Linked DNA regions of Homo sapiens: all the other regions are linked to region 2. Evidence: fine-mapped expression QTL. A gene starts in region 2. Each other region holds a variant in brackets. All regions are shown on one strand. Distances are between the middles of the regions. Region 1 overlaps HSF1 (heat shock transcription factor 1). Region 2 holds the start of MROH1 (maestro heat like repeat family member 1). Region 3 overlaps MROH1 (maestro heat like repeat family member 1).

Evidence for each region. PIP is the estimated chance that this variant, and not a neighbour inherited with it, causes the effect. A credible set is the group of variants that fine-mapping cannot tell apart.
Region 1: its variant is the best candidate, but not a certain one, in a credible set for the expression of MROH1 in cerebellar hemisphere (GTEx, PIP 0.88).
Region 3: its variant is the best candidate, but not a certain one, in a credible set for the expression of MROH1 in whole blood (TOPMed, PIP 0.72).

Annotation. Positions count from the first base shown.
Region 1 is chr8:144,305,588-144,314,870 of GRCh38, forward strand. It overlaps HSF1 (heat shock transcription factor 1), which reads left to right. Exons shown (of 13, transcript NM_005526.4): 2 at 3,319-3,427; 3 at 3,868-4,004; 4 at 4,185-4,309; 5 at 5,587-5,662; 6 at 5,734-5,795; 7 at 5,918-6,014; 8 at 6,113-6,249; 9 at 6,376-6,657; 10 at 7,924-8,029; 11 at 8,259-8,324; 12 at 8,398-8,467; 13 at 8,538-9,133. The coding sequence ends at 8,743. DGAT1 (diacylglycerol O-acyltransferase 1) reads right to left here. Exons shown (of 17, transcript NM_012079.6): 17 at 8,997-9,283. It overlaps LOC124902050, which reads right to left. Exons shown (of 2, transcript XM_047422537.1): 2 at 8,997-9,233. Among named protein-coding and RNA genes, the nearest start is that of MIR6848, 7.1 kb to the right of the region's middle. RefSeq lists an enhancer at 7,198-7,729. The variant A/G (reference allele first, on the strand shown) is at 6,783.
Region 2 is chr8:144,143,945-144,154,186 of GRCh38, forward strand. It overlaps MROH1 (maestro heat like repeat family member 1), which reads left to right and starts at 4,072. Exons shown (of 44, transcript NM_032450.3): 1 at 4,072-4,132. RefSeq lists silencers at 3,344-3,433, 3,554-3,753, 3,924-4,303.
Region 3 is chr8:144,203,771-144,214,012 of GRCh38, forward strand. All of the region lies in intron 12 of MROH1 (maestro heat like repeat family member 1), which reads left to right. Among named protein-coding and RNA genes, the nearest start is that of MIR7112, 54 kb to the right of the region's middle. The variant A/G (reference allele first, on the strand shown) is at 5,151.

The DNA of each region.
Region 1 (9,283 bases), 160 kb after region 2:
ACTGCGCCTGGCCGGCTCCTCCTTCTTATTCCTTCTGTCTTTTTTTCTCCTACTGGAGCACCTCAATTGACTGATCTTCATGTTTGCTGACTCCTTCTTCTCCTAGTCAGGTCTGCTCTTAAGCCCCTCTGGTTAATTTTTTTTTTTTTTTTTTTTTTTTTTTGAGACGGAGTCTCACTCTGTAGCCCAGGCTGGAGTGCAATGGCGCGATCTCGGCTCACTGCAACCTCTGCCTCCCGGGTTCAAACAATTCTCCTGCCTCAGCCTCCTGAGTAGCCGGGATTACAGGCATGAGCCACCACACCTGGCTAATTTTGTATTTTTAGTAGAGACGGGGTTTCTCCATGTTGGTCAGGTTGGTCTCCAACTCCTGACCTCAGGTGATCCGCCTGCCTTGGCCTCCCAAACTGCTGGGATTACAGGCGTGAGCCACCGCGCCCGGCCCCTCTGGTTGACTTTTAATCTGAGTTATTAAACTCTTCAGCTCCATAATTTTGATTTCGGGCTTCTTTACAATTTTTATCTCTTTATTGATACTCTCTGATAAGATGTCATTCTCATACTTTAGTTCTTCAGATGTGGTTTCCTTTAGTTGTTTGAACATATTTGAAATGATTGACTTAAAATCTTTGCCTCGTAAGTCCAGTGTCCAATGTTTTGGCTTCTTTGGGGACAGTTTCTATTGATTGCCTTTTTTTTTTTTTCCCGTGTATGGGGTATGGGTCCTAGCTTCTTGTTTCTTTGCATATCTCTATTTTTTTTTTTAACTAGAGTTTTTTGTTTGTTTGTTTGTTTGTTTGTTTTTGAGTCTGTTACCCAGGCTGGAGCGCAGTAGTTCAATCACAGCTCACTGCAGCCTTCACCTCCGGAGCTCAAGGGATCCTCCCTCCTCAGCCTCCTGAGTAGCTGGGATGATAGGTGTGCGCCACCACGCCCACTTAATTTTTGTATTTCTTCTAGAGACGGGGTTTTGCCATGTTGCCCAGGCCAGTCTCCAACTCCTGAGCTTGAGCAACCCACCCGCCTCGGCTTCCCAAAGTGCTGGGACCGCAGGCGTGAACCAGCGCAGCCGGCTGGAAAACTGGAACTCTCATCGGTTGAGAGTGGCAGCTCTGGAGCTCGGACTCCCCCACCTCCCCAGGATTTGTCATTGCTGCTGTTTGTCGTGGTTATCTGTCAGGTAGCTTTTCGGCACTAATTCTGTAAAGGTTGCGTTCTTTCTTGTTTATGGCCACTGCCGTCTCTGTTCAGTTAACTGAGATAGGTGGTGATGGGGCAGAAATGTTCTTGAATGCCTGGGGCCAGTGAGTCTCCCGTCTTTTCCGGGGGCTGTGTGTGTGTGTGTGTGTGTTGGGGACGCCTTCAGCACTCGGCCAGGCAGTGGACAACCCAACTGTATGCCTGACTTCCTGCTTACACAGAGCCTCAAGGTCAGCCAGAAGTGAGAGCTCGGGGCTGGCTCAGGTCTTTCCTGAGCACGGGCACGGCTCACACGTGTACACGGCTGCGAGATGTCCTGGAATATCTCAGAGCTTTTCAGAGCCCCTAGTGGCACCTCCTTCTCCCCAGCTGCCAGGCACTGCCTCAGGCAGCCACAGCGTTCAAAAATCACCTGTAAAGGTTTCAACAGGCACACCTCGGCAAACAGCTTTTTTATTCAGGAGAGCTTCAAGTCAAATCAGAGACAGCCTTGGGAGTGGACTCTTAGGTCAGATGCTGACAGTCCTCTGGGAATGGGGCCCTGGAGGAGCTCAAGCCCTGGCCCACCCCGCAGCGGCTGCCAGGACGCTGTTCCCACGGGGACTGCAGCTGTTGGTTTTTAAGGCTGCAGATGGAGTGGGAATAGGGCATGTAAAATGCCACAAAGCCTGGCTGGGCACAGAGGCTCACGCCTGTAATCCCAGCACTGCAGGAGGCCAAGGTGGGCGGATTGATTGAGGTCAGGAATTCGAGACCAGTCTGGGCAACATGGTGAAACCCCATCTCTCCTAAAAATACAGAAATGAGCCGGGCGTGGTGGCGCCTATAGTCAGCTACTCGGGAGGCTGAGGCAGGAGAATCACTTGAACTCGGGAGGCTGAGGCACGAGAATCGCTTGAACTGGGAGGCTGAGGCACGAGAATCGCTTGAACTGGGATGCAGAGGCTGCAGTGAGCCATGTTGGTGCTGGTGCACTCCAGCCTGAGCAAGACCTTGTCTCAGAAAAAAAAAAAGTTCACAAAGCCCACTGTTCTTACTAAGATTCAGCTGTTTTTCTTGAATAAATGCTCCCCGTGCTACTGTAATTCTTTGGTTAACTTTCAGAGTTCTGGAAAGTTGGCTTGGCGCTTTTCGCCGTCTCTCTCCTGCTGCCTTGGGGTCCTTTCCGTGACCGTTTCCCTCCCTGACACGTGTACATCCCTGTGTATTTCACATCTCTCTATGCTGGAAAGAGGTTCTCCACTTCTAGTGCCACACCACGGGGGTCTTTCTGGCTTTTTCCCTGTTTGCATCTGCAGCTCCCTTCCCTGGCAGGGAGAAACCTGCCCCACTGCCCTTCACCAGTTTCTTCACTGAGTCAGCCGCCCCTTCCTATGCAGACACCCCTCACCCCTCTCTGGCCCTGCTTCAGGCCCCCCTTCCCCGCCGTGTGGGCTTCTCGCTGTCCCCTAAGCCTTCGATGTCCCCTCTGAGCCACCGCGGCCACGGCCAACAGGGATGCCTCCCTCACCAGCGCCTCCTGATAGCTCTGGGCCTGAGCTCGGTAGAGAAATGGAAGAGGAAGGTATATGCAGTGTTTGACTGTCTCTGTTTCTTGTCTCACGTCACAAAACAAGACTGAATTTGGATTTCTGAACGCGACTGTGTTTTCCTCGGGAGTAATGAAATTAGGGCTCCATTTCCTTCGCTGTTCCCAAGGGAAAGGTCCTGCTTAAACAGGTGCTTTGTGAGTGGAAACGTGGCCAGAGTGCGGCGGGTGCTTTGTGAGTGGAAATGTGGCCAGAGTGCGGCGGATGCTTTGTGAGTGGAAACGTGGCCTTCTCTGGAAGCCCTGGGGAGGGGCTTTCCGACTGAGAGGAAGGCCTCGCATCTGCCCACCGCCCAGTCCTGGGCCTCACAGTGAGGATGCAGGTCACGCTGCACAGATGAGGCCCGTGTGGCAGGTGGTCCCAGGAACGAACTCGCCTCCCGCCAGCCCCCTGGGCCTCCCATGGCCCCAGCCCCATCAGGTGGAACGTGCACTGCCTGCGTTTCAGAAGGGGCGGCCTGGGGAAGGGGCGGCTTGGGCACGCTGCCCCTCACCACCACGCGTGACCCACCCATGTGTCTCCCTTTCAGAGCGGGAACAGCTTCCACGTGTTCGACCAGGGCCAGTTTGCCAAGGAGGTGCTGCCCAAGTACTTCAAGCACAACAACATGGCCAGCTTCGTGCGGCAGCTCAACATGTGTGAGTGCTGCCTCCAGGCAGCGCAGGGGTGCGGGAGGCAGACCTGCAGATGGCGGGACCCCAGCAGGAGGACCCTGTGATGAAGGACGGGGCGTCCTGTGCTGGCCAAGGGCATGGCGTGGGACCCTGCAAGCCTGGGGGCCGGGGAGCAGCCGCCTCTTCCATGGGGGAGGGTCCTTGTGGGTATGAACCTGGGGTCCCCATGGAAGAACCGTGAAGCCGGAGCTGTACTCCACGTGTGTCGGGCGCAGGGAGCCCTGTGGGGACACAGGGTCTCCCTTAGACCAAGGCCACTCGGCCACCCAGGCATGGGCTCTGAGGGGGCAGGGCAGGGTCTGACCATGGCCAAGCCCCGCAGCAGCCTCCTGGAGCAGTGGCCGCTCTTCAGGGGTTCTGGTCCCGCCCTGAGGCAGAGCTGCCCCCTTCCCTGTTATGTGCAGATGGCTTCCGGAAAGTGGTCCACATCGAGCAGGGCGGCCTGGTCAAGCCAGAGAGAGACGACACGGAGTTCCAGCACCCATGCTTCCTGCGTGGCCAGGAGCAGCTCCTTGAGAACATCAAGAGGAAAGTGACCAGTGTGAGTGCCGGCCCTGCACCCTTGCCCGGTCTCACCTGCCACAGCTCTCCCCGCCCGCCCCTCCCTGAGGGCTCCCACCCCAGCCTGCCCCTTCCTGAGGGACCTGGCTGCAGTGGACGAGCCTGAGCCTGCCAAGCTCCTAGGCTGCTCCAGTGACTCCTGTCCCTCTCGGGAATCCAGGTGTCCACCCTGAAGAGTGAAGACATAAAGATCCGCCAGGACAGCGTCACCAAGCTGCTGACGGACGTGCAGCTGATGAAGGGGAAGCAGGAGTGCATGGACTCCAAGCTCCTGGCCATGAAGCAGTAGGTCCCACACCAGCATTATGGGCCACAGCGGGTCCTGGCGCCCACCAAGAGGCCCCGGGTGCTGTGGGGGCAGGGCCCTGACCGGGGCCAGGTGCTCAGCTCCACCCTCCCGCTCCACGCACATCTACCCTGGGCCTCTGCCCCAGCCCCGCCGCCCGTGGCTGCTGCAACAGCTCTGGGGCCAGCCGTTTTCCATGTGCAGAAGGGGGTTGGGAGGGTCCCCTGCTCTGCACATCCCCAGCGCCCTCTGGGCCATTGGCTTCTGCCTGGCTCCGAGCTTGGCGGGACCCACCAGCCTACTTTTGAGGACAAGCCTTGCACAGCAGACCCGTCCCACCCGCCTCGGGCCTGGGGTCAGACCCACCTCAGGCCCTTCCTGGAACCGCTGTCCCACACTCGCCTGGGCCCATGGAGCTAGCCCCCAGCCCCTCCTCACCGGGACCCTGCGGCTCTGGGGAAACCTTAGCAGGAGCCTAACACACGGTGGCACCTGAGAAACTGAGGCAAGCCCACCTCGGAAGGCCAGCTCAGGTCTCACGTCCACTTTGGGGCTCCAGGCATGCGGGAACCCCAATGCCAGTACGGCTTCCTCGGCTCCGTGCAGCAGGCGCTCTTGACCCCCACGTCATGGAGGAGGCCTTGGCCTCAGACTCTCCTGCATGGGGTCTAGCAGGAGCCACCGGCTTTGTGATTCCTGGAGTCCGGCCACGTGGACCTGGCCTACCAAGAAGACTCACAGGCTTGACAGGGCCCAGCCTCCCAGAGCAGCAGGAGCGCGGTCATGGCCCTGCTCACCTGGCTGGGGACAGCTCTTCCCCACCCCTGAGCCACCTCCAGGCCTGGCGAGGGCCCTGAGCACCTACAGGACATGGGACAGCCAGTGTCGCAGCCTGAAGAACCGTCCTCCCTTAACCTGGCTGCTCAGGCCTTGGAAGGGCGGCCCAAGGGTCTGCTCCTGGCCTGTGTCCAAGGCAGCCCTCCAGGTGTTTGCCAGGATGGATGCCAGGATCCGGGTGCACCTGGCTCGCATGGATCCATCCCCAACACCCTACGTGACACCAGGTGTCCCCGGCAGGGAGGGGCAGTGGGACCAGCAAGCCCTGGCCCTGGCCCCCAGTCCCTCCACACACAAGTTCTCATCCTGGGGTGGGCCAGGCCAGACATGGTCACACTTACCCCTGCTCCTGCATGGGGGACAGGGAGGGTCTGTGGGGCTCCCTCAGCCCTGGGGCTCATGGGATTGGGCCCCACTGACCCAGCCTGGTCTGTTGCAGTGAGAATGAGGCTCTGTGGCGGGAGGTGGCCAGCCTTCGGCAGAAGCATGCCCAGCAACAGAAAGTCGTCAACAAGGTGGGGGCAGGGCCAGAGGGCCGGCGGGGGCCCCACAAGGGCCGGGGTAACTGTGTCCTCTCTCTCCACAGCTCATTCAGTTCCTGATCTCACTGGTGCAGTCAAACCGGATCCTGGGGGTGAAGAGAAAGATGTGAGGTTTTGGGGATGCCTGCATCCACCACCCGGGGCCCAGGGCTGTCCCCCTTCTCTGTCAGCTGTGCCCCGGGTACCCCGAGGTGGGGGGTGGTGGCTGACCTGCACCCTTCCCCACAGCCCCCTGATGCTGAACGACAGTGGCTCAGCACATTCCATGCCCAAGTATAGCCGGCAGTTCTCCCTGGAGCACGTCCACGGCTCGGGCCCCTACTCGGTGAGTGCCGGAGACAGGGCACCCGCCCAGGCATGCAGGCGGCAGTGGGGTGGGTTGCCCCTGCCGGCACTGCATGGACCTCCTGCCTTTGATTGCAGGCCCCCTCCCCAGCCTACAGCAGCTCCAGCCTCTACGCCCCTGATGCTGTGGCCAGCTCTGGACCCATCATCTCCGACATCACCGAGCTGGCTCCTGCCAGCCCCATGGCCTCCCCCGGCGGGAGCATAGACGAGAGGTGGGGGCCGCATCACCCCAGCCATCCTGTCCCCCAATGAGGCGAGCCCCTGTGGGCCCAGGGCAGAGTTGGGGATGAGGTGGGGCTGGCCGAGACGCCAGCTCACCTGGCCCCCCTCGTGTGCAGGCCCCTATCCAGCAGCCCCCTGGTGCGTGTCAAGGAGGAGCCCCCCAGCCCGCCTCAGAGCCCCCGGGTAGAGGAGGCGAGTCCCGGGCGCCCATCTTCCGTGGACACCCTCTTGTCCCCGACCGCCCTCATTGACTCCATCCTGCGGGAGAGTGAACCTGCCCCCGCCTCCGTCACAGCCCTCACGGACGCCAGGGGCCACACGGACACCGAGGGCCGGCCTCCCTCCCCCCCGCCCACCTCCACCCCTGAAAAGTGCCTCAGCGTAGCCTGCCTGGACAAGTGAGTGCCGCCCACCCCTGGCCCCACCCACAGCGCCTGGACGCACAGCCCTGGGCTTCAGCCCCGACTGTCCCAGTGGACTGAGCAGGGCAGCTGGCGAGGCAGGACCCTACCCCCAACCTCGG[A/G]GCTCGGGGCTGGGGAGGGAGACAGGTGCCAGCCAGATCACCCCACAGTCCCAAACGCCACAGAAGCCACGGGCATGTCCGGACAGGCTGCCGGGCCCTGCTCTCAGCCACCCGTCCTGCTGCCGCCACCCTCGCCACAGGCCACGGGCCCTGGCAGGTCGTGCTGCCCAGACACATGGCAGGAGATGGTGAGCAGGGCCGGCCTCCACACCCCCAGCCCCTGCCTGCAATGGGGGCTCTTGTTTTTGTATCTTGCAGTTTGGCTCGCACTCCACAGATGTCTAGGGTCGCCCGCCTCTTCCCCTGCCCCTCTTCCTCTCCGCATGGCCAAGTCCAGCCAGGGTTAGCGCTGACCCCACTGGGGAGGGAGGAGGGCTCTGCCAGCGCTCGGGCCCTCCCACACAGCCGTGGACCAGACCCAGCCTGGCCGGGCATGAGCGTCGGGCCTGGGCGGCAGCAGCCGAGACCCCTCTGTGGCGGGGGCTCAGTGTCGTCATGGCTCCCCTGGCCACGGGCCTGTGGTCATTGCCTGTGACAGGGATGACAGGGACAGGCCTCCCTGCTCTGGCACGGCCTCTGGTGTTGGCAGGATCCAGACTGCGGTGCTGACTGCACTTCCTGTCAGGCAGGGTCTCCAGGGCACCTCTGGGACCCAGCCTGGCTGTCCGTCCCATAGCCCAGGTGTGCCCTGTGGCCTAGGGCTTTCTTGGTCACAGCCACCAGACCGTGGGTCTCATCCCCACAGCAGCACCAGGGCAGGGACTGAGCCACCCACACACTGAGCAGAGCCCCACCTGTTTTCCCAGTGCAACGGGAAACCTCACCAACCCTGAACACTGAAATCCCTGATCCTTGTGCTGGAGCTGAATACGCCCCTTGTCTCCTGGGTCCACTGCCACCAAGGCCCCCAGGCCCTCATGGCAAAGGGATGCCCAGCATAGGCCCAGCCGCACCCCTGCAGGGCACAGAGCCTCCACTGCCTTCCAGGCCGTCCTCGAATGCGCTGCCCCCTCCAGCCTGTGCAGGCGTACACGGGGGTGCAGCCTGGGGGGTACAGTCAAGGGGAGCCCTTCTCCCACAGGAGGGCATTGGGGTGTGGGGCCTGGGGCACTGGTTCAGGTACCGCCTTATCCCGGGCCAGGAATGAGCTCAGTGACCACTTGGATGCTATGGACTCCAACCTGGATAACCTGCAGACCATGCTGAGCAGCCACGGCTTCAGCGTGGACACCAGTGCCCTGCTGGACGTGAGTGGAGCCCCGCCGCCCCGCCTCCCCGCCCCGCCTCCCCGCCGCGCCGCCCCGCCTCCCCGCCCCGCCTCCCCGCCTCCCCGCGCCGCCGCCCCGCCTCCCCGCCCCGCCTCCCCGCGCCTCCCCGCCTCCCCGCCCCGCCTCCCCGCCTCCCCGCCCCGCCTCCCCGCCCCGCCTCCCCGCCCCGCCCCCGGGTGCTGTTCTGACTTCCCTCCCTCCTCCGCAGCTGTTCAGCCCCTCGGTGACCGTGCCCGACATGAGCCTGCCTGACCTTGACAGCAGCCTGGCCAGTGTGCGTAGGCGGGCGGGGGGTGAGGGGGAACGAGACCAGCGGGAGTGCTCACAATACCGTCTCCACCCCACAGATCCAAGAGCTCCTGTCTCCCCAGGAGCCCCCCAGGCCTCCCGAGGCAGAGAACAGCAGCCCGGATTCAGGTGAGCCAAGTCCCACCGGCCCCACCTCTGCCCCCAACCCCCCACCGCCTTGACACCCCCACCCCCGCAGGGAAGCAGCTGGTGCACTACACAGCGCAGCCGCTGTTCCTGCTGGACCCCGGCTCCGTGGACACCGGGAGCAACGACCTGCCGGTGCTGTTTGAGCTGGGAGAGGGCTCCTACTTCTCCGAAGGGGACGGCTTCGCCGAGGACCCCACCATCTCCCTGCTGACAGGCTCGGAGCCTCCCAAAGCCAAGGACCCCACTGTCTCCTAGAGGCCCCGGAGGAGCTGGGCCAGCCGCCCACCCCCACCCCCAGTGCAGGGCTGGTCTTGGGGAGGCAGGGCAGCCTCGCGGTCTTGGGCACTGGTGGGTCGGCCGCCATAGCCCCAGTAGGACAAACGGGCTCGGGTCTGGGCAGCACCTCTGGTCAGGAGGGTCACCCTGGCCTGCCAGTCTGCCTTCCCCCAACCCCGTGTCCTGTGGTTTGGTTGGGGCTTCACAGCCACACCTGGACTGACCCTGCAGGTTGTTCATAGTCAGAATTGTATTTTGGATTTTTACACAACTGTCCCGTTCCCCGCTCCACAGAGATACACAGATATATACACACAGTGGATGGACGGACAAGACAGGCAGAGATCTATAAACAGACAGGCTCTATGCTATGGCCTCCATGTGTTTCCTCTGTCCCAGGGTGGTGCGGTGGGTGGTGCTGCAATGAGGAGGGGCCCAGGGCACAGAAGGGCCGGGCTGCAGTGGCCTCCTGGGGGAAGACGGATGCTTGCAGCTAGCTCCGTGCCTGCCCGACTCCCC
Region 2 (10,242 bases):
TGGAGAATTGAGCTGTACCTGCATTGTGCCCTCAAAGGGTGCGTCTTCTTGTTTTGAGGACCTGCCCACTCTGAGGACATCTTGTGGGACCAGTCCTGCCCACATGGGGCCCACTCTCTGTGAGGTGAAAACCCATTTCAAGGGCTGCAGCCAGGGTGAGGCCTCTGTGGACCCCTATGGACGTGGCTGGCCACAGAAAGCTGTTAAAGAAATGAGGGTGGGGATTTCTGGGGCATAAGGACAGGAAAAGGGACACATACGTGTCAACCACCATTTCAACTGCACCCCCTCCTTCGAGAGGATGCCATGGCCACACTCAGCTGGGCCCTAAGGTGGGCTGAGCCAGAGGAAGGCAGGCAGGAGCTCTGTCTCCCGGCCTTCTCCACTGGAGCCTGAAGCACCTCCTGCCCAGGCCAGCAAGGTGCAGGAAGCGTCCCACCTAGAGACCTCTGCAGACTTGACCACACACCCCAGGGCAAGCAAGGGCCCCACTCCTGAGCCTACCTCTGATCCTACAGTTCCAAGAGACAGAAGCCAACCTTGCCCCTCCCTTCTGGACCCCAGAGTGCCCTGTGGGCACTATTACTGCTAACGTTTGAGTGCCAGCTCTGTGCCGGGTGCCATTCTGGGCAGTCGCACCAGCTACCACTACCACCTGTAGCAGTCCTGCCCCCGTTCACAGAAGACATTCAGGAGCCCAGCCTGTGGGGGCAGTTCACATCTGGGATCTCAAGTCCTAACACAACCAAGCAATCCTCGCTTTACAGATGATGAAATTGAGCCGCCATGGTGGGGAAGCCCAACCCAAATGTGTCATCTCTGCTGTGAGCTAGACAGCACAGTGGCTGTGGGCCTGGAGGGCAGGGCTGCCTGATGGGCAGCCATCCTGGGAATGTCTGCAAGGGTCTGGTGCTTGGTACAGACCAGTGAGTCTGGGGAATTGGGGTCTCCACCAAGATCTGTGGGTGCACTTGGCATGTTTGCTGCAGAAAAGGCCCCAGAATGGGCTGGCTTGAACTGGAAAAACACACTTTCTCATCCCTTTTGGACCACGAGCTTCTTGAGAGCAAAGCATGTGTTTGATATTCCTTTGCTCACCCTCAGGCCTTGTTTGGCAAATTGCCTGGGATACAGAAAATAAGGACAAGGTCTGGGTGTAGTGGCTTATGCCTGTAATCCCAGCACTTTGGGTGACCAAGGCAGGAGGATCTCTTGAGGCCAGGAGTTGCAGACCAGCCTGGGTAACATAGTGAGACCTTGTCTCTGCAACAAAATTTAAAAATTAGCCAGACTTGGTGGTTCCCACTTGCAATCCCAGCTATTTGGGAGGCTGAGGCGAGAGGATCACTTGAGCGCAGGAATTTAAGGCTGCTGTGAGCTATGATTGTGCCACTGCACTCCAGCCTGGGTAACAGTGAGAGGCCTCATTTCAACAATAAAACCCAGCTTGGGCCGGGCGCGGTGGCTCATGCCTTTAATCCCAGCACTTTGGGAGGCCAAGACGGGCAGATCACGAGGTCAGGAGATAGAGACCATCCTGGTTAACACGGTGAAACCCTGTCTCTACAAAAAATACAAAAAAAAAAAATTAGCCGGGCATGGTGGCAGGCACCTGTAGTCCCAGCCAGTCGGGAGGCTGAGGCGGAAGAATGGCGTGAACCCGGGAGGCAGAGGTTGCAGTGAGCCGAGATCGCGCCACTGCACTCCAGCCTAGGGGACAGTTAGACCTCAGAAGAAACAAACTGGTTTGTGGTTGACCTGGGGGTTAGGTGTAGGGAAAAGAAAGACAGATCAGACTGTCCCTGTGTCTATGTAGAAAGGGAAGACATAAGAGACTCCATTTTGAAAAAGACCTGTACTTTAAACAATTGCGTTGCTGAGATGTTGTTAATTTGTAGCTTTGCCCCAGCCACTTTGATCCAACCTGGAGCTCACAAAAACGTGTGTTGTATGAAATCAAGGTTTAAGGGATCTAGGGCTGTGCAGGACGTGCTTTATTAACAAAATGTTTACAAGCAGTATACTTGGTAAAAGTCATCACCATTCTCTAGTCTCGATAAACCAGGGGCACAATGCACTGTGGAAAGCCACAGGGACCTCTGCCCTTGAAAGCAGGGTATTGTCCAAGGTTTCTCCCCATGTGATAGTCTGAAATATGGCCTCGTGGGATGAGAAAGACCTGACTGTCCCCCAAACTGACACCCGTAAAGGGTCTGTGCTGAGGTGGATTAGTAAAAGAGGAAAGCCTCTTGCAGTTGAGTTAGAGGAAGGCCACTGTCTCCTGCCTGCCCCTGGAAACTGAATGTCTTGGTATAAAACCCGATTGTACATTCAGTTCTGAGCTAGGAGAAAAACCGCCCTATGGTGGGAGGTGAGACATGTTTGCAGTAATGCTGCTTTGTTATTCTTTACTCCACTGAGATGTTTGGGTGGAGAGAAACATAAATCTGGCTTAAGTGCACGTCCAGTCATAGTACCTTCCCTTGAACTTAATTATGACATAGATGCTTTTGCTCACGTTTTTTGCTGACCTTCTCATCACCCTGCTCTCCTACAACATTCCTTTTTGCTGAAATAATGAAAATAATAATAAAAACTGAGGGAACTCAGAGGCCGGTGCTGGTGCAGGTCCTTGGTGTGCTGAGTGCTGGTCCCCTGGGCCCACTGTTGTTTCTCTATACTTTGTCTCTGTGTCTTATTTCTTTTCTCAGTCTCTCGTCCCACCCGACTAGAAATACCCACAGGTGTGGAGGGGCAGGCCACCCCTTCATTAGGAAAAAAATAGAAACTGCGCCAGGCAATTTAAGCAGGTGGGATTGGTTGCTTAAGTGTCAGAAGGGCTTGAGAGGCACGGGGGCAGGGTGGAGTTCGTCGAAGGTGGGGGCTGCAAGAAGCGGCCACTCTAGAACCGGAGCCAGGTGGTCCCGACCCAGGGTGGCTGAGCCTCTGGGCTCTGCTGCGGAGCCTGGGAGCCTGCGGCCCCTGCGGCACACCTCCGCTCCCACCAGTGGCAGGACACAGCTGGAAGCCCGCGAGTGTCAAGCCAAGTGATGACTGCAGGATCAGAACGGCCATTGGCTCTGTCCACCCTCCCTTTGCAGTCTCGATTATCCGCGTCGTTGCCTGCACCTGAGTCCATTCCCGGGGCTTCATTGGGCAGCCGTCCCGTGCGGGGCTTTGTAAGCAGCCCTCGGGAGCAAAATACAGACTCAGGCCTGCCCCTGGCGGAGGGGCTGGCGTTCGTTTGTGATCGGAGTGAAAGTGGGGCTGTGCTGCGCGCGGCAGCTGGTGTGCGTGAGGCGGGGGCGGCACCGAGACCGGGAGGGGACAAGGCCACAGGCGCGTGGGAAGCCGCCGCAGGGGCCGCGCCCGCATCCGCAAAGGGTACTGCGCTCTCCCGGGCGCCGTCCCCACAGCGGGAGCCCAGTCCCTCCGGCCAGGAGTGGACATCCTGCCCGCGCTGCTCCCGCCGCCTCCGCCTCTGCCGACGCCCAGCCTGGACGCGCGGCGGGCGCTTTCCTTCCTCACATCGCTCTTATCGCGTCCCGAGTTCCCGGGACCCCGCTGGTCGCCTCTTTCCCAACGAGCGCAGGGCCCTGCGAGTCCTGCCCCCCTCCGGGTGCCGCGGCCTCCAGCTGGCGCTTCCGGGGCAGACAGAGGGCGGGCGGGCCGCGCGAGTCCAGGGCGGGCGTGTGCTTGCGAGCGGCCGCAACGCCGCGCCGAGCCCGCGTCCCCGGCGTCTGGGAGCGGAGGTCGTCAGGGCTGTATGCGTCCGACGGGGACACGGGGACTGCAGCACCCCGGGGCTGGCGTAGCTGTCGCGAGCCTGAAGGCCGCGCCTGCGCCGTGGCGGCCGAACTGTCGCTCAACAGACGGGCGGGGCCGAGCGTGAGGCGGAGTCTGCGCACTGCTGCTTTGCAAATGAAGGTGGGCGGGGTGGAGCGAGCGTGAGAGACGTGCCCCCGACCAATAAGTGCAGAGATCGCTCGGGGGCGGGGACCTGCTGCCGCGCTCCAGGCTGCGGGTGGCCAGAAGGCAGCGGGGGCGGGCTCGGCGCGCGCGGCTCCGCCCACTCCGGGCCCCTGCTGGGCGGGAAGGCGGCGCCCCGGCCGAGGTGGCGGCGGCTCCTCAGGTAAACGGCGGGTGGGGATGAGCCTTCGGCGGCGCTGGGGAAGAGCCCCTCGGGGAAGTCTGGGCTGAAGAGCCTGGGGCGGCTCCCTTGGCGGGGCCGCGGAGGAAGCCGAGTCAGGAGGCGCCTCCCCAAGGTCACAGGGCGAACGCTGGGAGGGTCCTGGGTGTCGCGGGGACCTCGGCTCAGGTGTGCGCCGCGCCACAGCCCGGAAGAGAGGCCGGAGCTGTGCGGCTGTGCTCCTCCTCTGCGCCGCTAAGTCGTCTCGGCCGCGCGACCACCCCTCTTCGGGGAGCTTGGTGGTCCCCGGTGCCCGCCCCTCCGCGGGAGCCCGGTGGTCCCCGGTGCCCGCCCCTCCTGTGAGCCCGGTGGTCCCCAGTGCCCGGCCCTCCCCGGGAGCGCGGTGGTCCCCGGCCCTTCTCCCCCCAGGCGGGGCCACCGGGGGTCCTCTCTCCGGGAAGCCAAGCATACGCCCGGAGCCTGCAAAGCCGGCGTGCCCCGGGCCTCCGTATGCCTTCCGTATTCTCTGACGATCGCGAGCAGGAAGGTGATTTGTCCCTAGTCACGAGGATGACTGGTCATAGCGTGCCGGGCATAGCGCTGGCAGGGCCGCCGGGAGCCAGCCCTCACTCAGCCAAGGTGAGACTTAGGGGGTCGGATTTTCGGGCAGCGTCAGTGCAGCTGCAGTGTGAGGGTCAGAGGAAACCACTCTGCGGGCGCTGGTGGCTCGGTCCTACACACTCTGGGGAGGGGCTCCTTTGCCTGCTCAGTTGGGGAAGGGACAGACTCATAAACTCAAGTGCAGTGAGGTAAGCAGAAAAGGGGTACGGGGGTGTGGCCGAACTTAGGGATGTGAGCAGAGTTGGGTCGGGGACAGCCCTGTAGGCAGGGACCACTTTGGAAGGGGATGGTGGTGAACGCACACGATGCGGTAAGAGGCAGGCAGGGTAGGGCCGGTGATAAGTCAGGTGAGGGTGGTGAGTTGAGTTTAGAGCTGTTGGGTCTCAGTGCGATGACCATGGATGGAGATGTCCCGAAGACCTCGGGTCCCGGCGAGGCGAGGGCTGGAGATGCGTGTGGGAATCGTTGTTTGCGGCATGTTTCATAGGTGGTACGTGTTTGTGACGTGGCTGCATGGACAGTCTGGGCACCCTAGGGTGCTGCCGTCAGCAGGATCTTCAGTGCTCAGTCTCAGGCTCTCAGGGTCCCCGTGAACAGGTGTCTCTGGTCTCTCTTTGATGTCAGAGTGGAATGACCTGAGGCTAAGGTGTTTTTGTTAACTTGAAACTGACGTGCAGGCCGCTGTGGCTTGTGGAGACCTGCACCTCGTCATTTCCCACTGGCTGGGGTTGATTGCTGACTGCTGAGGGACACCAGGGGGTCAGAGGTGGAGGCTGTGGGGCATGTGCTTGCCTGAGTTCGTGGCTGTCTCCTGTGTCAGGAAACAGGTGCTGGTGCTTAGTTTTCTTTCCCAGGGTCCACAGAGGCCCAGGAGAGAAGCCTGGTTGCTGCCCTCTGTCTCGTAGCCCCCCTTTCACAGAGCTGGGTTATTTGGGGTAGAGATCCTCTGTCTGTGCCGGTCCACCCAGCTTGGTTTCTTTGGGGTAGGAGCACCAGGAAAGGCTCCCGTGGCTCTTGGGAGCTCCTAGCCAGTGTGCAGAGAACATGGACTGCTGCCCATCATGAGAAATGTGCTTTCTTCACTGAGCTTGAGGGGCCACCTGGTTTTGGGGGTTTGCATGAGCACCAGTGACACAGCTTGGTGTGGCCTGTATTGAGGAACCATGTTCTCGGTGGACTGTGAGCAGTGGGCTGTGGGATTGCATTTCCCAGGGTCATCAGCCTTATTGGTGACTTTGGAAGTTGATTCTGTGGCTGCTGTGCTGGGAGAGAAGGTTCCTTGGACCTGACGCGTGGGTGGGGCATTCTGTGACCTCCCAGTCTCCCTGCACACACCCAGCCCTGCAGGCTGGCTCACCACTGCTTCTGGGCTATTGATTCCTGTGGCCTGCACAGCCTCGCACACCCCCTCCTAACCCTTTTGGACCCAGTGCAGCACCTCTGTTGTGGGCACAGGTGTGGCAGCCATATACTTTTTGTGGCCGGAGGGCTTTCAAGACAGGAACTCTGGGCCTGGGATGGTGACTGGCGGGTGTTTACTAAATGTGGTTGAATTAAATGAAAAGGAAGCAGCTCTTTCATTCACACAGAAATGTGTGCTATGTAGGGAGAGAAGACCCTATCAACCCTGCCTGCCACCTTCTCCCATTCGTTTGCTTTTTGTTAATTTAACCAGAGCCCTGATTGGCATTTGTGTTTTTTTCTGACATCCCCATTATATACATGTGTGTGTACTAGTACGAGGGCATCTGTAGATAGATGTGGAAAAGTGGATGTTTAGCCACTGAGGCTTGTTGGGGCCGTTCTTCAGGTTCTGCTACTGGCACCAGCACCGAGTAGCCCCTGTCCTCAGCACGTCAGATGCTCTTGGTGTTCAACTGTGTGCTGGCCTCACTGCAAGCCTTTGACTGGTGACACTTTTTGCCATGTAGCCTACAAATAGAGGAGCTAGTCATCACTGATCGTCACCATTTGTAGGTGGTGGGACAGGGCACAGGGATTTTCCATGCCTGCTCATGGCTTACTGGCTCTGCCACTGAGCCCTTATCCAGCCACTGATGCAGGAGGGCTGGGAAGAGAAGAGTGTGGTCCCTTATGGAATAGGGGAAGGGAAGTGCTGGGTAGAGTAGAGCATGGTCCCTGGCTAGGGCTCCACCACCATGGACCTAGATGAGGACAGGCACTCCTGCCTTCCTGCCCAAATGTTACATTTCCCAAGACCACCCTGGCCTGCCATACATAGCTCCTGTGCCTATATAAACCTGAGACCCAGGCCAGGCGTGATGGCTCACGCCTGTAATCCCAGCACTTTGGGAGGCCCAGGCAGGCGGATCACTTGAGGTCAGGAGTTCGAGACCAGCCTGGCCAACATGGTGAAACCCCGTCTCCACTAAAAATACAAAAATTCGTCGAGTGTGGCGGTGGGCGCCTGTAATCCCACCTACTCAGGAGGCCAAGGCAGGAGAATCGCTTGAACCTGGGAGGCGGAGGTTACAGTGAGCCGAGATTGCGCCATTGCATTCCAGCCTGGGTGACAGAGCAATATTCTGTCTCAAAAAAAAAAAAAAAAAAAAAAAAAAACCTCCAAGATGCTAGCAAGGCAGGGACACAGGCAGCTGGACATAGAGAGGAGCAGATTGGCGGAAGAAGACACAAGCAACTGGACCTCGAGGGGAACACGCCAGTGGAAGAACACACCAACAGATGCCAGCACTCTGGCAGGCCATCGACTGGCTGGACAAGGTGGAGTTTGGCCAGGGCAGTCGGAGGAGAGCTGGGGCCACCAAGCAGCCCAACTCCAGAGGAAGACCATCTCCTTTCTGGCTCCCCCATTGGCTGAGAGCTGCTTCCACTCAATAGAACTTTACACTCATTCTCCAAGCCCAGGTGTGATCCGACTCTGCCGGTACACCAAAGGGCAAGAACCCGGGATACAAAAAGCCCTCTGTCCTTGCGACAAGTAGAGGGTCTAATTGAGCTGTTTAGCACAAGCTGCCTATAGACGGCAAACTAAAAGAGCACCCTGGAACACACGCCCACTGGGGCTTCAGGTGTAAACATTCATCCCTAGATACAGCCTCCCGTCTCTGTGCTCCCCCTAGAGGTTTGGGCAGCGGGGCACTGAAGAAGCAATTCGCACCAACGTCACACGCCCTGCGACGGGGACAAGGGGACCTTTCCGCAGCACCGTGCTGCACTGCCGTCGGCTCTGGAAGGGTGGCTGAGTGTCTCTGTTCAACCTAGGGGCAGTCAGCACAGTCCCCATATGTCTGCCGGCGATCTCTCTCTCTTCTGAGAATTCTTGCACGTCCTTTGCTCTCTTTCCTGTTTATCTCAGGGATGTGCACAAGCTCCTTTGCATACAGTAGTCCTTCCCTGTCCACAGGGATATGTCTCATACCTATATACCTATGATAAAGTTTAACTATAAATGAAGCACAATAAGAGGTTGACAGCAATGAATAATAAAATAGAACAGTTTATGACAATACTCAAGACAGCCTGCAATTTAAAACATGAGTTCATTTCTGGAATTTTTCTATTTAATATTTTTGGACTATGTTTGATTGTGGGTAACTGAAACCAAGGAAAGTAAAACAGGATAAGAGGGGACTACTATGTTAATATCAGGCAAGTCATTTTCTCATATATATTATGATTGGTTTATCATAACTGCCTTGTTTTTTTATTTAAAAAAAATTTTTTTTTTTTTTGAGACGGAGTCTTGCTCTGTCGCCAGGCTGGAGTGCAGTGGCACGATTTTGGCTCATTGCAACCTCTGCCTACTGGGTTCAAGCCATTCTCCTGCCTCAGCCTCCTGAGTAGCTGGGACTACAGGCGTGTGAAAAATTATTATTATTATTTTTTTTTTTGAGACAGTCTCGCTCTGTCGCCCAGGCTGGAGTGCAGTGGTGCAATCTCGGCTCACTGGAAGCTCCGCCTCCTGGGTTCATGCCATTCTCCTGCCTCAGCCTCCCGAGTAGCTGGGACTACAGGCGCCCGCCACCACACCCGGCTAATTTTTTGTATTTTTTAGTAGAGACGGGGTTTTACTGTGTTGGCCAGGATGGTCTCCATCTCCTGACCTTGTGATCTGCCCACCTCGGCCTCCCAAAGTTCTGGGATTACAGGCATGAGCCACTGCGCCTGGCCATGACCTCATATACTTTCTTCTCGTGCTGAGAACACTTAAAATCTACTCTCAGCAATTTTCAAGTATATATCACGTTGCTGTTAACTCTAGTCATCTATGTTGTGCAATTGATCTCTTGAATTTATTCTTCCTGTCTAACTGAAGCATTGACCCTGTGACCAACATCTCCCTAGTCCTCCACCTCTGCCAGCCCCGGTAACCACCGTTCTACTCTGCTTCTAGGAGTTCAACTCTTCATAGAAGTTGGGATTCCACGTGTGAGATCACGTGGTCGTCTTTCTGTTCCTGGCTTATTTTACTTTACGTAATGTCCTTCAGTACATCCCATTTCTCGCAAATGACAGGAATTCCTTCTTTTTTTTTTTTGAGATGGAGTTTCACTCTTGTTGCCCAGGCTGAAGTGTAATGGCTCGATCTCGGCTCACTGCAACCTCCGCCTCCTGGGTTCAAGCAATTCACTTGCCTCAGCCTCCTGAGTAGTTGGGATTACAGGCACCCACCACCACGCCCAGCTAATTTTTGTATTTTTAGTAGAGATGGCGTTTCACCATGTTGGCCAGTCTGGTCTCGAACTCCTGACCTCAGGTGATCCACCTGCTTCGGCCTCCCAAAGTGCTGGGATTACAGGTGTGAGCCACTGCGCCCAGCCTCCTTTTTTAAGACTGAATAATACTCCATTGTGATATACCACATTTTCTTTGTTTTATTTTTATTTTGTTCTTTCTTTAAATATATGCCACATTTTCTTTATTCATTCATCCATTGGTGCACACTTACACTGATTCCATATCTTGGCTTTTGTGAATGGTGCTGCAGTACCCATGGCAGTGCAGATGTCTTTTTTGAGATCCTAATTTCATTTCCTCTGGATGCGTACTCAGGATCATTGGATGATATGGCAGTTCTGTTTTTATTTTATTTTTTATTTTTTGAGACAGAGTTTTGCTCCATCGCCCAGGCTGGAGTGCAGTGGCACGATCTTGGCTCACTGCAACCTCTTCCTCCTGGGTTCAAGCGGTTCTTCTCCCTCAGCTTCCCGAGTAGCCAGGACTACAGGCGCCCACCACCACACCTGGCTAATATTTTGTATTTTTAGTAGAGATGGGGTTTCACCGTGTTAGCCAGGATGGTCTCGATCTCTTGACCTCGTGATCCGCCCACCTTGGCCTCCCCAAGTGCTGGGACTACGGGCGTGAGCCAAAGCGTCCACCCTATTTTTATTTTTATTTTTTTTTGAGATGGAGCCTGGCTCTGTTGCCCAGGCTGGAGTGCAGTGGCAAGATCTCGGCTCACTGTAATCTCCACCTCCTGGGTTCAAGCCATTCTCCTGCCTCAGCCT
Region 3 (10,242 bases), 60 kb after region 2:
CTCCCCATTTACCTGATGAGGTTGGCATCTGAAGTGGAATTCTTAGTGCCCATGCTCTTGTTAGAGATGGGTTTTTCCATTCAGAAGTTCAACATTTCATGGGATTAACCATGCTCAACTTCCCTTTGTTAATTCATCAATCACATTTATGCTTTTCAGCGTTCACTTTGTTTTCCCCATATTTCATTTTCCTTGAAGTTCTTTCTCTGTGCATTTACGTATGTACAAATGCATGTACGCAAGGAAATATTTTAACCAAATGACATACTTCAAAACATGCTTTTTTCACTTGCTAGTATATCTTAGAGAACTTTTAACATCAGCACATATACATCTGTGTCATTTTTTGTTTTGTTTTGAGACAGGGTCTCGTTCTTTCACCCAGGTTGGAATGCAGTGGTGCAGTCATAGCTTACTGTAGCCTTGAGCTCCTGTGCTCAAGCAATTCTCCCACCTCAGCCTCCCAAGCAGCTGGGACTGCGGGTGTGCACCACCACACTCTGCCAGTTTTTTTGTATTTTTGTAGAAATGGGGTCTACTTATGTTGCCCAGGCTGGTCTCAAACTCCTGGGTTCAAGTGATCCTCTTTCCTTGGCCTCCCAAAGTGCTGGGATTACAGAAGTGAGATGGGCATCTATGCCGTCTATGTCATTTTTAATTGTTTTTATTTGAAGTATAATACACATACAGAAAAATGTACACGTTAACTGTTCAGCTTCATGAATAATCACACAGTAAGCCTATGTATTTATTCACCAACCAGGTGAAGAAATGGGACATTGACAACACCCAGGGGTGGCACTCTCAAGTCCCTCAGAAGGGGTGACTTCTAACAATAGAAGATAGTGTTGCTGTTTCAGGATGTTGTACAAAGAGAATTGTATGGTGTAAATAATTTTGTATCTGGCTTCTTTTCCTCAGTATTCTCTTGGTGAAATTTATACATATAGTACAGCTTATTTATTTTCACTCCCGTGAAGGATTCCAGTGAATTATCTACTACAGTGATTCATTTTGCCTGTGATGGGTAAATGGCTATATCCAGTATTTAACTGTTAATGCATAAGCCACTATTAACATTTGTCCTTTACACAGTTAGTGTTTACCTAGATGTAGAATTTTGGGTTATAAAGTATGTATGTGTTCAAGTTGCATAGATAAACCCTTCTGTTTTTCCAAAGTAGCTGTTTATACCCCAATTTATACCCCACACCTTATGTCTCACAAGTGGCTTATGAGCATTATTGCTTCATGTCCTCACCAACATTGGTTGGTCTTTAATTTTAGCCATTTTTGTGGGTATGTTATGAGGTCCTGCTTTGTTGCCCAGGCTGGTCTCCAACTCCTGGGCTCAAGCAATCCTCCCACCTTGGCCTCCCAAAGTACTGGGATTACAGGCGTGAGCCATTGCACCCAGCCAGAAGTCATCAAGTTTTCAATGAAAATATTGGAACATGATTGCAAGTTGAGGCCGTGGTTGGTCCCTGCATGTCATTCTTTCAGTCCATGGTCCAGAGAGCTGTTTCTTGTGTTAGACACCAGGCCATCTCAGTTTAAGTGGCTGGGTATAAAAGTCTGAGGTATCTTAATATGTTGCTTTCTTGTCTTCTAGAATCTGTTACTGCTATTGATAACTCATTGATGACTATCTGATTTGACTGGGATTTTCCTTATATATGATTTGGTCTTTTCTGCCTAGATGCCCAAAGGATTTTTATATATATATAAATCCTTTGCATATATATAGACACACACACACACACACACGCATGCATGCCAGGATTACAGGCTGTTTTATATCTTAAAACCGGAAATTTTACTGTGTCTCAGTGTTGGCTATTCTGAGTTGATTTCCCCCCCAGGTCCATAGAGTGCGCATTCAGCATTTGCGTCAATTCTGTTTTATCTCAAGAGACCTTGTTTTTCAGTCATAGCATTTCAGTACCCCATGACTTCGGAAGCCTTCTCTGGGATTCCCTGTTACATGTGTGTTGTGTCATTGTTGCCTATCTTAGATACTTTTATAAATCAAATTTTTGAAAGGCTTTTGGCCTCCAGTCATATTTTCTTCCAGAATTTTATTTTCTAAAATTGAACATAATCTTCAATAGAAATGCAGTAAAATGCATAAATCTTAACTGTATACTTGGTGACATTTTACACATTGTTCACCCATATGACTACCACTCAAATCAAAATGTGGAACATTTTTCTAAAACCCAAAAAGTTTTGCTTGTATTTATTTTCAGCTAACACCTACACCTACTGTTAAGAAGTGACCTCTTTTATGAGGTCACAGCGCAGGCTTGTGCTCTGTCGCCCAGGCTGGAGTGCGGTGGCACGATCACAGCTCACTGCAGCCTTGACCTCACGGGTTCAAGGGATCTTCCTGCCTCGGCCTCCTGAGTGGCTGGGACTGCAGGAGTGTACCCGGCCCACCGTTATGACTTCTGTCACCATAATTAATTCTGCCTGCTGTTGAGTTCCATGTAGATGGGCTAGTTGTAGGAGGACCCTTCGTGAGCGTAGGCATTCACTGAGCACGGTGCTGCTGTCAGTGCACTCTTCTTTACTGCTAAGTTGTATTCTGTTACATTTTCTGAATTTAAAAGTTATTTGTTTTCCTGTTAACAGACACTTGGGTTGTTCATGTTCTTTTTTTTTTTTTTGAGACATAGTTTCGCTCTTGTTGCCCAGGCTGGAAGGTAGTGGCACGATCTCGGCTCACTGCAACCTCCACCTCCCGGGTTCAAGCGATTCTCCTGCCTCAGCTTCCTGAGTAGCTGGGATTACAGGCGAACACCACCACACCCGGCTAATTTTTGTATTTTTAATAGAGATGGGGTTTCGCCATGTTGGCCAGGCTGGTCTCGAACTCCTGGACCTCAGGTGATCCACCCGCCTCGGTCTCCCAAAGTGCTGGGATTATAGGCATGAGCCACCGTGCCTGGCCTTTTTTCTCATTTTAAATTGTCCTCTTTGCCAGACACGGTGGCTCACGCCTGTAATCCCAGAACTTTGCGAGGCCGAGGCAGGTGGATCACCTGAGGTCAGGAGTTTGAGACTAGCCTGGCCAACATGGTGAAACCCTCTCTCTACTAAAAATACAAAAAAATGCCAGGTGTGGTGGCACACGCCTGTAGTTCCAGCTACTCTGGAGGCTGAGGCAGGAGAATTGCTTGAACCCGGGCGGCAGAGGTTGCAGTGAGCCAAGATTGCATCACTGCGCTCCAGCCTGGGCGACAGAGCGAGATTCTGTCTCAATTAAAAGAGAGAGAAAAGAAATTTAAAAAAAAAAATGGAAGTTCCCTGGTGAGTAAATTGATGAAGCACCTTTTCATATGCTTATTGACCTTCAGATATATTTGCGTATATATGTTGAAGTTCCTTTTCAAGTCTTTTTTTTGGGGGGTGGGGGGCCAGTTGTTGTTTTTTTGAGATGGAGTCGTGCTCTGTCACCAAGCCGGAGTGCAGTGGTGCGATCTTGGCTCACTGCAACCTCCGCCTCCTGGGTTCAAGCAATTCTCCTGCCTCAGCCTCCCAAGTAGCTAGGACTACAGGCGCTCACCACCATGCCCAGCTAATTTTTGTATTTTTAGTAGAGACAGGGTTTCACCATGTTGGCCAGGATGGTCTTGATCTTCTGACCTCGTGATCTACCCACCTTGGCCTCCCAAAGTGCTGGGATTTACAGGCGTGAGCCACCACGCCCGACCCCTGTTCAGGTCTTTTGCCCATTTTGATTGATTTATAGAGAGAGGGTCTCACTACGTTACCCAGGCTAGAGTGCAGTTCTGTGATCATAGCTTACCACATCCTCGGCCTCCTGGGCTCAAGCGATCCTTCTGCCCCAGCCTCCAGAGTAGCCTGGGTTACAGGAGTGCACTACCATGCCCAGCTGTTGTTCATTTAACAACTGGGTTGTTTGTCGTTTTATTATGATTATTTTGTAGTGTTCTTTATTGGATACATAGAGACATAAATATATGTTTTTATGATTAGTACCTTTATGTCTAAGAAACCTTTGCCTGCTCAGAAGTCATGAAGATATTCTTCTATATTTTCTTTTAGATGCTTTATTGTTTGAGCTTGCAAATTTATGTCTGTGATTCATCTTTTACTAATGTTTGGGTGTGAGTGAAATGTAGGGGGCAAGGTGTGTTTTTTTTTAATTACTTTTTTTTTTTTTTTTGAGACAGAGTTTTGCTGTTGTTGCCCAGGCTGGAGTGCAGTGGTGCGATCTCAGCTCGCTGAAGCCTCCACCTCCCAGGTTCAAGTGATTCTCCTGCCTCAGCCTCCCGAGTATCTGGGATTACAGGCACATGCCATCACACCGGCTAATTTTGTATTTTTAGTAGAGACAGGATTTTGCCATGTTGATCAGGCTGGTCTCAAACTCCTGACCTCAGGTGATCCGCCCGCCTCGGCCTCCCAAAATGTTGGGATTACAGGCGTGAGCCACCACACCCGGCCTGCAAGGTTATTTTTATATGGATGTCCAGTTGTTCCAGTCTCACTTGTTGAAAAGACTTTACTTTCTCCATTGAATTGCTTCTGTGCCTTGGTACAAGGTCAGGTAACCTTATGTATTAATGTAACAGCTGCAGTAACAAAGTACCACCGACTGGTGGGTGGGGTTTTTTTTTTTTCTATTACCCTGATCTCTGTTTTATCTTCATGTGCATTTTTCCTGTGTGCCTGTCTGTATCCCTATATCCCCCTTTTATAAGGGTACCAGCCATATTGGATGAAGGGCCCACCCTACTCCAGTGTGACCCCCTCTCAACTTATTAATTCTGCAGTAACTATTTCCAAATAAGGTCACATTCCGAGGTACAGGGGTTGGGATTTGCACATACGAATTTTGAGGCCACAATTCAACTTATAGCATCATATGTTAGTGGGTATATTTCAGGACTCTATTCTTTCCTTACACCAATATCACACTTTTTTTTTTCTTTTTTCTTTTTTGAGACAAAGTCTCACTGTGTCACCCAGGCTGGAGTACAGTGGCGCGACCTTGGCTTACTGCAGCCTCTGTCTCTTGGGTTCAAGCGATTCTCCTGCCTCAGGCTCCTGAGTAGCTGGGATTACAGGCATGCACCACCACATCCGGCTAATTTTTGTGTTTTTAGTAGAGACAGGGTTTC[A/G]CTGTGTTGGCCAGGCTGGTCTTGAACTCCTGATCTCAGGTGATCCACCTGCCTCAGCCTCCCAAAGTGCTGGCATTACAGGCATGAGCCAATGCACTCGGCCATTTTGTGTGTGTGTGTGTGTGTGTGTGTGTGTGTGTGTGTGTGTGTGTGTTTAGTGGAGACGGAGTTTCGCCATGTTAGTCAGGCTGGTCTCAAACTCCTGGACTCAAGTGATCTGCCCGCCTCAGCCTCCCAAAGTGCTGGGATTATAGGCCAATATCACAGTTTCTCAGTTGTTTTAGTTTTATCCTAAGGCTTTAAATCTGGTAGAGGATGTCCTTCAACTTTATTCTTCTTCAAGATTGTTCATCCCCATTGAAAAATCGTTAGTATAGGCCGGGCACGGTGGCTCAAACGCCTGTAATCCCGGCACTTTGGGAGGCTGAGGCAGGCGGATCACGAGGTTAGGAGATTGAGATCATCCTGGCTAACACAGTGAAACCCCGTCTCTACAAAAAATACAAAAAATTAGCTGGGCGTGGTGGCGGGCGCCTGTAGTTCCAGCTACTTGGGAGGCTGAGGCAGAGAATGGTGTGAACCCAGGAGGCAGAGCTTGCAGTGAGCTGAGATGGTGCCACTGCACTCCAGCCTGGGCGACAGAGTGAGACTCCGTCTCAAAAAAAAAAAAAGAAAAAAGAAAAATCGTTAGTATAAAAGAAATCATGGAAGGGCACAGTGGCTCACACCTGTAATCCTAGCACTTTGGGATCCCGTAGCAAGCAGATCGCTTTATCCTAGGAGCTTCAGACTAGGCTGAAAAACATGGTGAAACCCTGTCTCTACTAAAAATAAAAAAAGCCAGGTGTGGTAGCATGCATCTGTAGTCCCAGCTACTCTGGGGACTGAGGTGAGAGGATCACCTGAGCCCAGGAGGTCGAGGCTGCAGTGAGCTGTGACGGTGCCACTGCATTTCAGCCTTGGCTACAGAGTGAGACCCTGTCTCAAAAAAAAAAAAAAAAGGGAAGGAAATGTAGAAACCACATAAAACAAATGTGTGACTTATTACATATCATTCTAAGACAACAACATCAGATCTACCACCAGGTCTTTTGGACTGAAGTTGCCACCGAGACGCCCCTCCTTGCATCCTATTCCAGTCACAGTTCTTCACTCCCCAACAAGTAACAGCTATCCTGATTTTTATAGTAATCACTCCCTTATGATTAGCTGTGTCCACTTTAAAAGCCTACCTATGGCCGGGTGCGGTGGCTCACACCTGTAATCCTAGCATTTTGGGAGCCTGAGAGGGGCGGATCACTTGAGGTCAGGAATTTGAGACCAGCCTGGCCAATACAGGGAAACCCTGTCTCTACTAAAAATACAAAAATTAGCCAGCGTGGTGGCAGGTGCCTGTAATCCCAGCTACTTGGGAGGCTGAGGCAGGAGAATTGCTTGAACCTGGGAGGGGGAGGTTGCAGTGAGCCGAGATTACGCCACTGCATAAACAGGCCCTGTGCGGTGGCTCACACCTGTAATCCCAGCACTTTGGGAGGCCAAGGCAGGCAGATTACTTGAGGCCAGGAGTTCGAAACCAGCCTGGGCAACATGATGAAACCCCATCTCTACTAAAAATGCAAAAATTAGCTGGGTATAGTGGCGCACACCTGTCCCAGCTACTCAGGAGGCTAAGACATGAGAATCGCTTGAGCCCAGGTGGCAGAGGTTGCAGTGAGCCAAGATCGTGCCACTGCACTCCAGCCTGGGTGACAGATGGAGACTCTGTCTCTCTCTCTCTCTCTATCTCTCTATATATATATACATTCAAATTTATATAGAGATAATAATGTATAAATATATTTTTACATAGATTTAAGTCTTTTTTTGGAGGCTTGACCATTGGTGATTTTGTTTATTTTTAGTGTGGTAAAATACATGCAATATAAAATTTAGCATCTTAATCGTTTTTAAGCAAATGCTTCAGTAGTGTTAAGTACATTCTCATTGTCAGGCAACTGTCACCACCATCTGCCTCCACAACTCTTTTCATCTTGCAAAACTGAAACTCCGTGCCTGTGAAACAGCAACTCCCCATATTTAAGTCCCTCATAAGCTACAGGTTCCCCTCCGTTCTTCTCTTTCTCTTATAATTTATCTGTAGAAGAACCTGGCTGTTTATTCTGTGGATTTGCTCATCGTTGAGTTTTGCTGACTGCATTGTCAAGGTGCAAGTCAACATGTTTCTCTGCCATCTGAATTTCTAGCACATTGGCAGCTGGATTCAGAAACAGATTCAGACTCAAGCTCAGTCCCTTGGGCAAGACGATAGGAGTCATGTGATATGTGGTATTCTCTCCTTTGAACGTCAGTCTTAGCAGCATTGATGCTGAATGCCTGTATCCATTAATTAATTAATTGGTGGGAGGATGATACTATAATTCTATCATTTATTTTTCATTAAGTGGAACACCTTGACAAAGAGATACTTGCCCCAGGTACCATTTGCTTACCCAGGGGTATGGTTCATATAAGAAAGGCAGGGTTGGCCGGGCACAGTGGCTCATGCCTGTAATCCCAGCACTTTGGGAGGCGGAGGCAGGTGGATCACGAGGTCAGGAGTTCAAGACCAGCCTGACCAACATGGTGAAACCCCCCTCCCTACTAAAAAATACAAAAATTAGCCAGGCATGGTGATGCGGGCCTGTAATCCCAGCTAATCCAGGAGGCTGAGGCAGAGAATCGCTTAAACCCAGGAGACAGAGGCTGCAGTGAGCCAAGATTGCGACACTGCACTCCAGCCTGTGCGACAAGAGTGAAATTCCATCTCAAAAAAAAAAAAAAGAAAAAGAAAGGTAGGTTCAGCCCTTGATTCTTTTGTGTTTTTATTTATCAGTTTTCAAGGTAGTGGATTGGTTTCCTATCACCCTCCAGAGGTGGTTTGGAAGGACGCATTTGATGGCTTCAATCCAGAGCAGTCATCACCATCACCGAAGCTCAGATCGTCTCATCTTTGGCAAGCGGCAGCCTCTTGAGATCTGAATCCCTCTGATACGGCCCTGCTGGTCTTTGGCAGCTCATGTTTTAGGCTTCTTTCATCTGTTTCTTGCTTTAGACCTGGAATTGGCCATTTCTACAAAAATAGCCCTGGTTCCTTTTAGTGAGAAGCTGTGTTGTTTTTTTGTTTGTTTGTTTGTTTGTTTTTGAGATGGAGTCTCACTCTGTCGCCCAGGGTGGAGTGTAGCGGCTCAAACACGGCTCACTGCAACCCTAACCTCCTGGGCTTAAGGGATCCTCCTGTCTCAGCCTCCTAAGTAGCTGGGACTTGCAGGTGCACACCACCACACCTGGCTAATTTTTCTATTTTTTGTAGAGATGGGGTCTCACTATGTTGCCCAGGCTGGTCCTGGATTCCTGGGCTCAAGTGATCCACTTGCCTCGGCCTCCCAAAGTACTGGCATTACAGGTATGAGTCACTGCACCTAGCCAAGAAGTTACCTTTTAAGACAGTAGTCTGTTTCTGGAGGGCTCATTACTTCTGGATGGTTACTATTCCTGGGCCTTTTCAGTAGACAGAGCTAGGAAATATCTCTATCAGTAGATAGATAAAATACCTTATGAGTTCATGTTGATACTTCCAGTTCAACATATGGACCTCAGAGATTTTTACCTCTCTTCTGTTACTTTTTTTTTTTTTTTTTTTTTTTTTTTTTGAGACAGTCTTGCTTTGTTCCCCAGGCTGGAGTGCAGTGGTGGGATCATGGCTTACTGTAACCTCTGTTTTCCAGGTTCAAGCGATTCTCATGCCCCAGCCTCCCTACTAGCTGGGACTACAGGCATGCGCCACGACACCCAGTTAATTTTTGTATTTTTTAGTACAGATAGGGTTTCACCATGTTGGCCAGACTGATCTTGAGCTCCTGATCTCAAGTGATCCACCTGCCCCGGCCTCCCAAAGTGTTGGGATTACAGGCATGAGCCACCGCATCTAACCTCTTTTCTGTTACGTCTCTATCTCTGTTCTCAGGAATCCAGTTCTCAAGGTTAATAGAATTGGACTATCCCATAATTACCATTTGTTTGATCTCGTTACACAGGCAGCACTAACACCAGAATAACACTGATGTTGCCATCAGCAGTCACACGACTGAAACATGAGGACTGCCCTGCACGTGCTGCTCCGCAGCCTGCTGATCTAACGGCCGCGCCCGCGTCTGTTGCTTGAGTCACCACGGCTGTTACATCCCGTGCTCTCCCTTCTCTGCCTTCTTGGTGTTGGTTCTGCGGGCGACTGCCCATGTGGCCCTCAGCCCCATCCTCTGTTCATGGCTCTCTGCCACTCTTGTTGTCCAAAGCTCTTTCTCTGTAGGTTCCGTGGGAAGAGCTCATGGGAACATGATCTTCGACCTCATGCTTGCTGATCATAGTTTATTGTGCCTTTTATCGTTGATGGTTTTGCTGGTTACAGGATTCTTGGCTGACATTTCCTTGAGTGTCTTAAGTTATTCCATATTCTTCTGGCAGAGAGTTGCCAGATTTAGCAAAAACAAATAAACAGGATGCCCCGAATATTGTGTGGGACATTTTTGTACTGAAAACATGATTTGCTGGGCTGGGAGCGGTGGTTCGCGTCTGTAATCCCAGTACTTTGGGAGGCCAAGGCAGGCAGATCATTTGAGGTCAGGAGTTCAAGAACAGCCTGGGTAACATGGTGAAACCCCGTTTCTGCTAAAAATACAAAAATTAGCTGGGCGTGGTGGCGTGTGCCTATAATCCCAGCTACTCAGGAGGCTGAGGCAGGAGGATCACTTGAGCCTGGGAAGCAGAGGTTGCAGTGAGCCAAGATCACACACTGCACTCCAGCCTGGGCAGCAGAGCAAGACTCCGTCTCAAAAAAAAAATTATTTATTGTTTATCTGAAATTCAAATTTAACTGAGCATCTCATATTTTATCTGGCAACCCTATTCTGGCATAAAGCATTGTTATCGAAGTCTGATGATAATCTAATTTTCTATCCTCTTAGATGCCATGGGGTTTTTTTTTGTTTCTTTGTTTTGGTTTTGTTTTCTGATGTCCAAAAGATGTTCTTCTTTTTCTTTAAAACACAGTAATTTC